Linked DNA regions of Homo sapiens: region 1 is linked to region 2. The links come from fine-mapping of genetic effects on gene expression. A gene starts in region 2. The other region holds a variant in brackets. All regions are shown on one strand. Distances are from middle to middle.

Region 1 (4,385 bases), 99 kb after region 2:
ACCTGCAATGCAGAAATGAAGGGAGAGGCCCTTCCATTCCCTGGTGCTTACTGAACAGGCGCCAGGTGGACTAGCAGATGTCTGAAAGGAAAGACTCTCCAGGAAACAAGTATTTGTGGAAACTCAAAAGAGCCGTCAATGAGTGCCACCTTCACCTCCTCTCCTCCCTCTCTCCCCCTTGAATCCACACCGACAACTCCATCAGCCACATGGGCCGGGGCAGAGAGGGCAGGTGTGCTAGGAACAGACATCGCAGCCACGCTGCCCGGGCTCAAACCCCCACCTCCGAGATCCAGAGCCAGGGACCTAACTGCACCCTGCCTCCATTTCCCCCATCTGTAGGATGGGGATAATCGTAGTGCCTGCTGGCTGGGCACAGTGGCTCACACCTGTAATCCCAGCACTTTGGGAGGCTGAGGTGGCAAGAAGGTGACAGAGTGGCCATCTGTCACTGACAGAGTGGGAGGAATGCTTGAGCCCAGGAGTTTGAGACCAGTCTGGGTAACATTGCAAAACCCCATTTCTACCAAAAGTAAAAAATTAGTCAAGCATGGTGCACGCCTGTGCTCCCAGTTACTTGGGGGGCTGAGGCAGGAGGATCGCTTGCGCCCAGGAGTTCTAGGCTGCAGTGAGCTGTGATTGTGCGACTGCACTCCAGCTGGGGTGACAGTGAGATCCCGCCTTAAAACAAAACAAAACAAAACAAAAAAACCCCACAAACACAAAAAACCAGTAATGCCCTCTCTGGGGGTTGGCTGTGATAGAGAACATTCTGGAATGCTGTCTGACACAAAGCAAATACTTTCCTTGACTATTTGTACTACCATTCACTTCCTCCGTAGCTGCTGGAATGATTCAACTAACAACCAAGTCAGGCATGTCCCTCCTCTGCTCAAAGCCCTGCCATGGCCCCCACCTTCCCCAGGAACCCGTCTTCACTGTGACCTGCAAGAATGGTCGGCAAACTATGGCCCCAGGGCCAAATCCAGCACCTCCTTTGGTAGAGCAAAAATATGCACCAGAGACCTTATGCTGCCCACAAAGCCCAAGGTATGTACCATCTGGTCTCTTACAGAGAGTCCAGGACCTCTGGCCCCACCCAGGCTATCTCCTCACCAGCTACCACCAGCCTTCACTCTCCCACTCTCCTGGGCCACCTGGCTCCACCCACCCCGGCCTCCTCCAAACATGTCACCATCCCACTGGGCCCCCGTGGCTGCTGCTCCTTCTGCCTGTCCCCATCTTCTTTTTCATTTTATTTTTATTGAGACCGAGTCTCGCTCTGTCATGCAGGCTGGAGTACAATGGTGCGATCTCAGCTCACTATAACTTCTGCCTCCTGGTTTCAGGTGATTGTCATGCCTCAGTCTCCCGAGTAGCTGGGATTACAGGCGTGCGCCACTCGTCTGGCTGATTTTTGTATTTTTAGTAGAGATGGGGTTTTGCCATGTTGGCCAGGCTGCTCTCCAACTCCTCACTTCAAGTGATCTGCCCGCCTTGGTCTCCCAAAGTGCTAGGATTACAGGTGTGAGCCACTGTGCTGGGCCAACTTTTATTTTTAAATGTATAATTTTCAAATAGAGACAGGGTCTTGCTATGCTGCCCAGGCTGGTCTTGAACTCCTGGCCTCAAGCAGTCCTCCTCCCTCTGCCTCCCAAAGTGCTAGAATTACAGGTGGTAAGCCATCTTGTCTGACCTGCCCACCTTCTCAGTGAAGCCCCAGAGGCCACCTTGTTTAAAATATCATCCAGGCCAGGTGTAGTGGTTCACACCTGTAATCCCAGCACTTTGGGTGGTGGCTGAGGCGGGTGGATCACTTGAGGTCAGGAGTTCGAGACCAGCCTGACCAACATAGTGAAACCCTGTCTCTACCACAAATACAAAAATTACGCAGGTGTGGTGGTGCGTGCCTGTAATCCCAGCTACTTGGGAGGCTGAGGCAGGAGAATCGCTTGAACCTGGGAGGCAAAGGCTGCAGTGAGCCGAGATGGTGCCACTGCACTCCAGAATGGGCAACAGTGTGAGACTCCATCTCAAAAAACAACAACAACAA[CAAA/A]AACAGCCGGGCATGGTGGCTCACGCCTGTAATCCCAACACTTTGGGAGGCTGAGGCGAGCGGATCATGAGGTCAGGAGATCGAGACCATCCTGGCTAACACAGTGAAACCCCGTTTCCACTTAAAAATACAAAAAATTAGCTGGGCGTGGTGGCGGGCACCTGTAGTCCCAGCTACTCGGGAGGCTGAGGCAGGAGAATGGTGTGAACCCGGGAGGCAGAGTTTGCAGTGAGCCAAGATCGTGCCACTGCACTCCAGGCTTGGCAGCAGAGCAAGACTCTGTCTCAAAAAAAAAAAAAAACCCAAATAAAATATCATCCACCCCAAAACACACACACACACACACACACACACACACACACACACACACACACACGAATTTTCTCCGTGAGGCACATCACAGCCTCCTTGCACTCAGGGGCACTTGCTGGCACTGCAGCACTACGTTTGAAGGTCATTTTATTTTCTAAAAAATTTATTATTATATTGTTATTTTAGAGATGAGGTCTCTGCTGCCCAGGCTGGACTGCAGTGGCGTGATCGTAGCTCACTGCAGCCTCGAACTCCTGGGCTCAAGGAATCAAGGGATCCTCCTGCCTCAGCCTCCCAAGTAGCTGAGACCACAGGTGTGTGACACCATGCCTGGCTAATTAAAAAAAATTTTTTTTTTAGAGATAGGGTCTTGCTATGTTGCCCAGGCTGGCTGGTCTCAAACTCCTGGGCTCAACTAATCCTCCTGCCTAGGCCTCCCAGTGTGCTGAGATTATAGGCATGAGCCTCCTCGCCCAGCTAGGGGTCATTTTCAACATTAACATCACCAACAAGAAGCACACAAATGCGAAAACCGTGGTACTCCATAGACCTTCAACAGGGCATGTGTTTACAGTGTGAGAGGCTGAACGAGAAGGTGGAGTGTCGCCTCGCTCAGCCTCAGCTGGGAACCTGTGTGGGAACTCCAAGTTTTCTCCACTCTGCACCAATATGAATGGATTCATGTTGCGGTTACAGAGAAATTTTAGCAAGCGGGTGAAAATTAAACAAAGAATTACCATCCGATCCAGCAATTCTACTCCTGGGTATATCTTCAAAAGGGTAAACACTGACTCTGCAAATCCCAAGGCTCAACTGTAGTTTTGTTTATTTAGAAGGGAAACTCCAGGAGCTGCGGGTCTCTGTGGTCATGGCTGGCACGAGGCCTGTCATGTGGTGGGTGGGTGCTTAACAAATACGCGCTTCAGGGAGGGAGGGAGAGGACGTCTGGGAGGGACCTGGTCTGGACCGGTCAGAGAAAGGAAAGGGCAGGGTGGAGGGAATGTCTTATTCCAGGAGGTTCTGCCATGGGCCTTGGGGGCCCTTGGAGAGTCACTTTGTCATTGAACCTGAAGCCACGGAAAGGTTTATGTGGAGGATTGGATGAGCTCTGCTTCTCGAAACGATGGCTGCAGCGTGGGGAGCAGGGCACACTGGAAGGGGTTGCTGGTGGACGCAGGGGGACCGGGACCTCGAGGGCAGGGTGGAGAGTGGCAGAGAGGGGCGGTGCAGGGGCCATGAAGTGGGGGGCAGAGTGGCGGGCTCGGCAGCAGGCAGCCGCTGGCACGGGGTGTTGCGCTCAGGAGGGCGCTCTAAGCAAGGGGTGGACATTTGGGCCTAAGGTGCTACCTGAAGCCCGGGAGAACCCAGGAGTGCCCAGGAGCAGGGTTAGGGAGGTGGTTTAATGGAGCTGCCTGGAGATTCAATGGGATAAGGGATGGAACTAAGGTCCTTGGGTCCAGCTTTGTTGAAAGCGGTCTTGGGAGCAGAATAGCTGAATGGCATGCGTGGTTTTTATTTTGGGGGAGGGGAGAACACAGTTGTATCATAATCACTGGCTCAAACTAGTATTATTTTATTTATTTATTTACTTATTTATTTTGAGATGGAATTTTACTCTGTGGCCCAGGCTGGAGTGCAGTGGCACGATCTCGGGTCACTGCAACCTCTGCTTTCTGGGTTCAAATGATCCTCTTGCCTCAGCCACCCGAGTAGCTGGGATTACAGGCACCTGCCCCCACACCCGGCTAATTTTTGTATTTTTATTGTTTTTGTTTTTTTCTTTTTTTTTGAGACAGAGTCTCGCAGTCGCCAGGCTGGAGTGCAATGGCGCGATCTCAGCTCACTGCAACCTCCACCTCCCGGGTTCAAGCGATTCTCCTGCCTCAGCCTCCAGAGTAGCTGGGATCACAGGCACGCACCACCATGCCCAGCTAATTTTTGTATTTTTAGTAGAGACGGGGTTTCACCATCTTGGCCAGGATGGTCTCGATCTCTTGACCTTGTGATCCGCCTGCCT
Region 2 (4,385 bases):
CTCTTGTGGGAAGCTGGGGTCCTGTGGAGGAGACAGTCCTAGCTTCCTACCCCCTTGCTGGGCGTCCCCACATGGGGAACAGTGTGGGTGTCAGCGTTTCTGTGCTCCTGAGCACATGGCCTGAATTCTTGTCCCATACTTGGAGGCGGCAGATTAATTTAGGGGGCGAGTTCTGGTAGGGAGGCCCCCCTCCAGCAGCAGCATTCTGAGCTCTAGAACCCATGTCTGGGGGATAAGAATATGGAACAAATAACATCAGGTATCCCTCCCAAGTCACTGGGGAAAGACAAGAAGACTCTGGCTTGCCCTCTGGGGAAAAGAAAACCTGAATTCCAGAGCTCACAGCTCCAGGTGGGAGTCAGTGTCAAATCCTCTCTCTTAGACAGATCGGAAATGCCCTTTCCTACAGCCAGATAGTGAGCATGGTAGAGTGATATTTGGGACCCCTCCTGGTGAGGAGGGATGGGTAGGGAGACTCATGAACCCCATAGGCAGGATGGTGGGGACAGTTGTTAGTATACCTGTTTTATTTATTTATTTATGTTTGAGATGGGGTCTTGGTATGTTGCCCAGGCTGGACTCAAACTCCTGGGCTCAAATGATCCTCCCACCTCAGCCTCCCAAAGTATGGTGATTACAGGCATGAGCCACCATGCCCGGCCAGTATACCTGTTTTCCCTATTGGCTAGAAGGTCCTGCATTTTAACTTCTAGCTGGAGGATAGGCAAAAATAATACCTGGGGACCCTCTGAAGTTAATGGGGGAACGCCTGAGTCATCTCCTCCCATGGCTGGGACATGGCGGGTAGTGTCAGCACACTTGTAGCCCTTCCTGCAGGAAGGATCCTGAACTGAATTGCCAGCTTGTGGCTAGGGGCAGACTGGGAGGTAGAGGGACAAAAGCTGGAACCACTTCTGGGGAGCAATGGGAGCCCAGGATGACCTGCCGGGAGGATGCCTTGAGCTCCCCACCCCATGGCTGGGTGTTGAGGTGTCAACAATGAATGATCTGCTCCTGGGAGAAGCTGTGGGGGGACCTGTGGCTCCCCTTCTGGGGAAAGGAATACACTGAGCCACAACCCCATAGCTGGGAGTGTGCAGGCAAACAGAGCCGAGTTCCTGGACGGCGGTCCTCAACCCAGACCCCATAGTTGGAGAGTGGGGGAAACAAGACCTGGGACCCCTCCTGCATCAGGGGCAGAGGAACCCTTAGATTGCCTCCAGGGGAAGGAGCCCCCTGAATTCCCATCTCTTAACTGGAAGGTGGGAGGAGAAATCACTTAAGTCTTTCCTGAGTTCCCAGGGGTGAGGGCAGGTGGACCCCTGGATCACCTCCAGGGAAAGGAGCTTCCAGAACTGCAGACCCCAAGACTGGAGGGGCAAGGGAACAATCGCTGGGACCCTTCCTAGGGTCCTGGGGGAAGAGGGAACCCCTAGGTCCCCCTTTTGAGGACAGGGCCTCCTGAACTCCAGACCCCAGGCGGGAGGTGGGAACAATACCTCGAATCAGGAGGGGAGGGGGTCCTGGATCGCCTCCTAGGGAGGGGGCGTCCTGAGCTCCAGACCCCAGAGCTGGCGGGCGCCCCCCACCCCGCCCGATTGAAGGCTCCCAACCTCCTGGCCCTTTCCCCCCGGGCCCCAGCGGCGGGATGGGTGCGCTAGGCCGGAGCTGGCCGCAGAGTCCCCTCCCCATCGCTCCCGCGACCCCCGCTCGCCTGGGCCAGGGCCGGCGGCGCGCAGGGCGGGGGACGATTAGAGGTCGCCCCGGGCTGCGCCCCGCGCCTGGAGCTCCCCCGCCCGCCCGCCCCCCACCCAGCCCCCCGCCCCGGCCCCAGCCCGCTCGCAGGGACACTCACCCGGCGCCCCTCGCCCCTGCCCGGCCCGCCGCGCCCGCGCCGGCCGCCGGCTCCCCCCGGGCCCGCAGGAAGCCCCCCGCCCGCCAGCCCCGCCGGCGGCCCCCTCGGCCCAGCGGCCCCGCCAGGCGCTCCCGGGGAGCGAGAGGGGCCGGCCGAGGGCCGCAGCGGGAGCTGCTGGGACTTGTAGTTCGCCCGCGCCCGCCGCGGCCGTCGCCATCGCTGCCCCCGCCCCCCGGGCAGGCCTTTGTCCCCGGCCAGGCCACCCCGACCGCGCGGCCGCGCCTTTGTCTGCACCGTGCCCCGCCCGCACGCAGCCCTGGCCCCATCCCTAGTCTCCTCCTGGGCCTGTCTCAGTCCCTCTGTGGCCCTGGCCCTATCTCTTTCTCTCCATCCCTGTCCCTCTCTCTGTCTCTCTCCGTCCCTATCTCTCTATCTCTGTTCATTCTCTGTCTCTGTCCCTGTCTTCCCATCTCTGTTCCTTTCTCTGTGTCTCTGTCCCCATCTCTTTCTCTGTGTTCCAATCTCTTTGCCTCTGTTGCTTTCTCTGCCTCTATCTCTCTCTGTGTCTGTCTGTCTCTCTCTCTCTGTCTCTGCCTCCTGCCCATGTCTCTGACTCTATCTTTGTTCGTAAAACTCTACACATGTTGTTCTTGGAGACTTGCAGCGCACATAGGCACAGCCAAGCCTCTCAGCTCTGCAATCTAAAAACATGTCTATTTTTGCTTAACCTGGCCTTCCTCCAATTTTTCCTTTTTGCATGGTGAAACCCGTCACCCTTTCTGGGTAACACCCGCCAAGGCACAGATTTGGGATATTCCTCCTCTAGTGTTTTCAGCCTCCTACCCAGATGGTGGGTCACCGCTGTCCCTGGAGGCCTCCAAGTGCTAGATGTGAGTGATGGTTTCCGGAGAACCCTACGCCGGGCCGGGAAGGGCTCGGGGCAAACTTTCCTTGGAGACACAGATCCCCGCTGCCAGCCAGGAGAGAGAGTGGAAATCAGCTCCTGATGGCTGGGCCGCGATGTTCTCCACTAAATATAAACAATGGTCACAGAATATAAACAATGATGAGGCAAGGCCACTCTGTGACCATGTCTGAACCAAGATAGAGACATGGGCCCTGTGCAACCACAAAAATGAGTTCTCATCCCCCTCTCCAAGTGAACACAAATGACTGCCACTTCTTACCGACGACAATTCCAACCCAACTGCCATCCTCCCACCTCTGAGACAAAAATCACTGAAATACCTAGTCAGCAAAGCGCTCCCAGGTTCCCGACAATACCACCCTAGTAATTCTCTGTAAAACCACCCAGTATAGGCTGGGTGCGGTAGCTCATGCCTGTAATCCCAGCACTTTGGGAGGCCAAGGCGGGTGGATCTTGAGGTCAGGAGTTTGAGACCAGCCTGGCCAGCATGGTGAAATCCTGTCTCTACTAAAAATACAAAGATTAGCCAGGCGTGGTGGCAGGCACCTGTAATCCCAGCTACTCGGGAGGCTGAGGCAGGAGAATTGCTTGAACCCAGGAGGTGGAGGTTGCAGTGAGCCGAGATTGCACCACTGCACTCCAGCCTGGGCAACAGAGCGAGACTCCGTCTCAAAAACAAAAACAAAACAAAAAATGCAAACCACCAAGTACAAGCCCAAATTCTATAAGATACTCCTCTGTCCCCATGTCCTCCTTATAGAGACACCCTATGGTTCCTTCTTCCTTCCTGAACCTTCTAGATGTGTGTTAGACTCAGCCTGAGACCTGCTTTCCATCTTTCCGCAGAGCCCACAGCAGATCTGAGAGATTGGAGATAACTTCAATTGGATTATGCCCCTGGTTCCTTATCCTGACACTTCCTGGATGATCCCATTACAAATACATGTGATGACATCTGTTGTTTCTTTGGCTCAGAATCTAACAGTACTTTCTTTTCCTTTGTGGGGTCCCCTCCACTACTCCAGATGCACATGTGTCTAACACCCCTTCCCAGTCCCACGTGAGCTGGACTCTAATCAAAGGGCCCCTATCCCCTGGCCACAATAATTAGGTATGGGTTGAGAAGGTGACATTGGAGGTTCTCACTCTACTTCTGGGGTTATGAGCCACAGGGGGCTCATTCTGCCTGCAGCCACTTTCCCCAGTTGTTCAAAAGAACGGTCTGCAGACTGAGGACAATATGCACCAAGATGTACAAGTAAGAGTCAGAGAGATAGCTCTGGCTATATTTGTTGAGCTCCTGGATATAGCCGTACCTGAAGCCACAGAACTCATTCTTTCCTGTACCACAAACCAACAAATGTTCTGGGTGTTTGAGCTGGTTTTAGTGGATGTCTGTTCTTTGCATCCGTGACAGTCTTGACTAATTTAGGAATTATTACCTGGAAAGGAAAGAGTAATAAAAAAAATCTTTTAAAAAAAACCCTAAAATGTGGAACAAACTAAAGAAAGATGGGATAGAGAGCCAGGGTTGCCACATACATGGACTATAAAGTGAATAGGGCACCTTAAGTTATGCAATGCACGACCTGTCTAGATGTA

The links. PIP is the estimated chance that this variant, and not a neighbour inherited with it, causes the effect. A credible set is the group of variants that fine-mapping cannot tell apart.
Region 1: its variant is the best candidate, but not a certain one, in a credible set for the expression of ZNF358 in whole blood (INTERVAL, PIP 0.58).

The regions. Positions count from the first base shown.
Region 1 is chr19:7,414,578-7,418,962 of GRCh38, reverse strand. The region is part of intron 10 of ARHGEF18 (Rho/Rac guanine nucleotide exchange factor 18); the gene reads right to left. Among named protein-coding and RNA genes, the nearest start is that of ARHGEF18-AS1, 22 kb to the right of the region's middle. The variant CAAA/A (reference allele first, on the strand shown) is at 2,054.
Region 2 is chr19:7,513,720-7,518,104 of GRCh38, reverse strand. ZNF358 (zinc finger protein 358) reads right to left here and starts at 2,002. Exons shown (of 2, transcript NM_018083.5): 1 at 1,856-2,002. It overlaps LOC105372261 (a long non-coding RNA gene), which reads left to right. Exons shown (of 3, transcript XR_936294.3): 3 at 3,630-3,752. RefSeq lists a silencer at 1,921-2,170.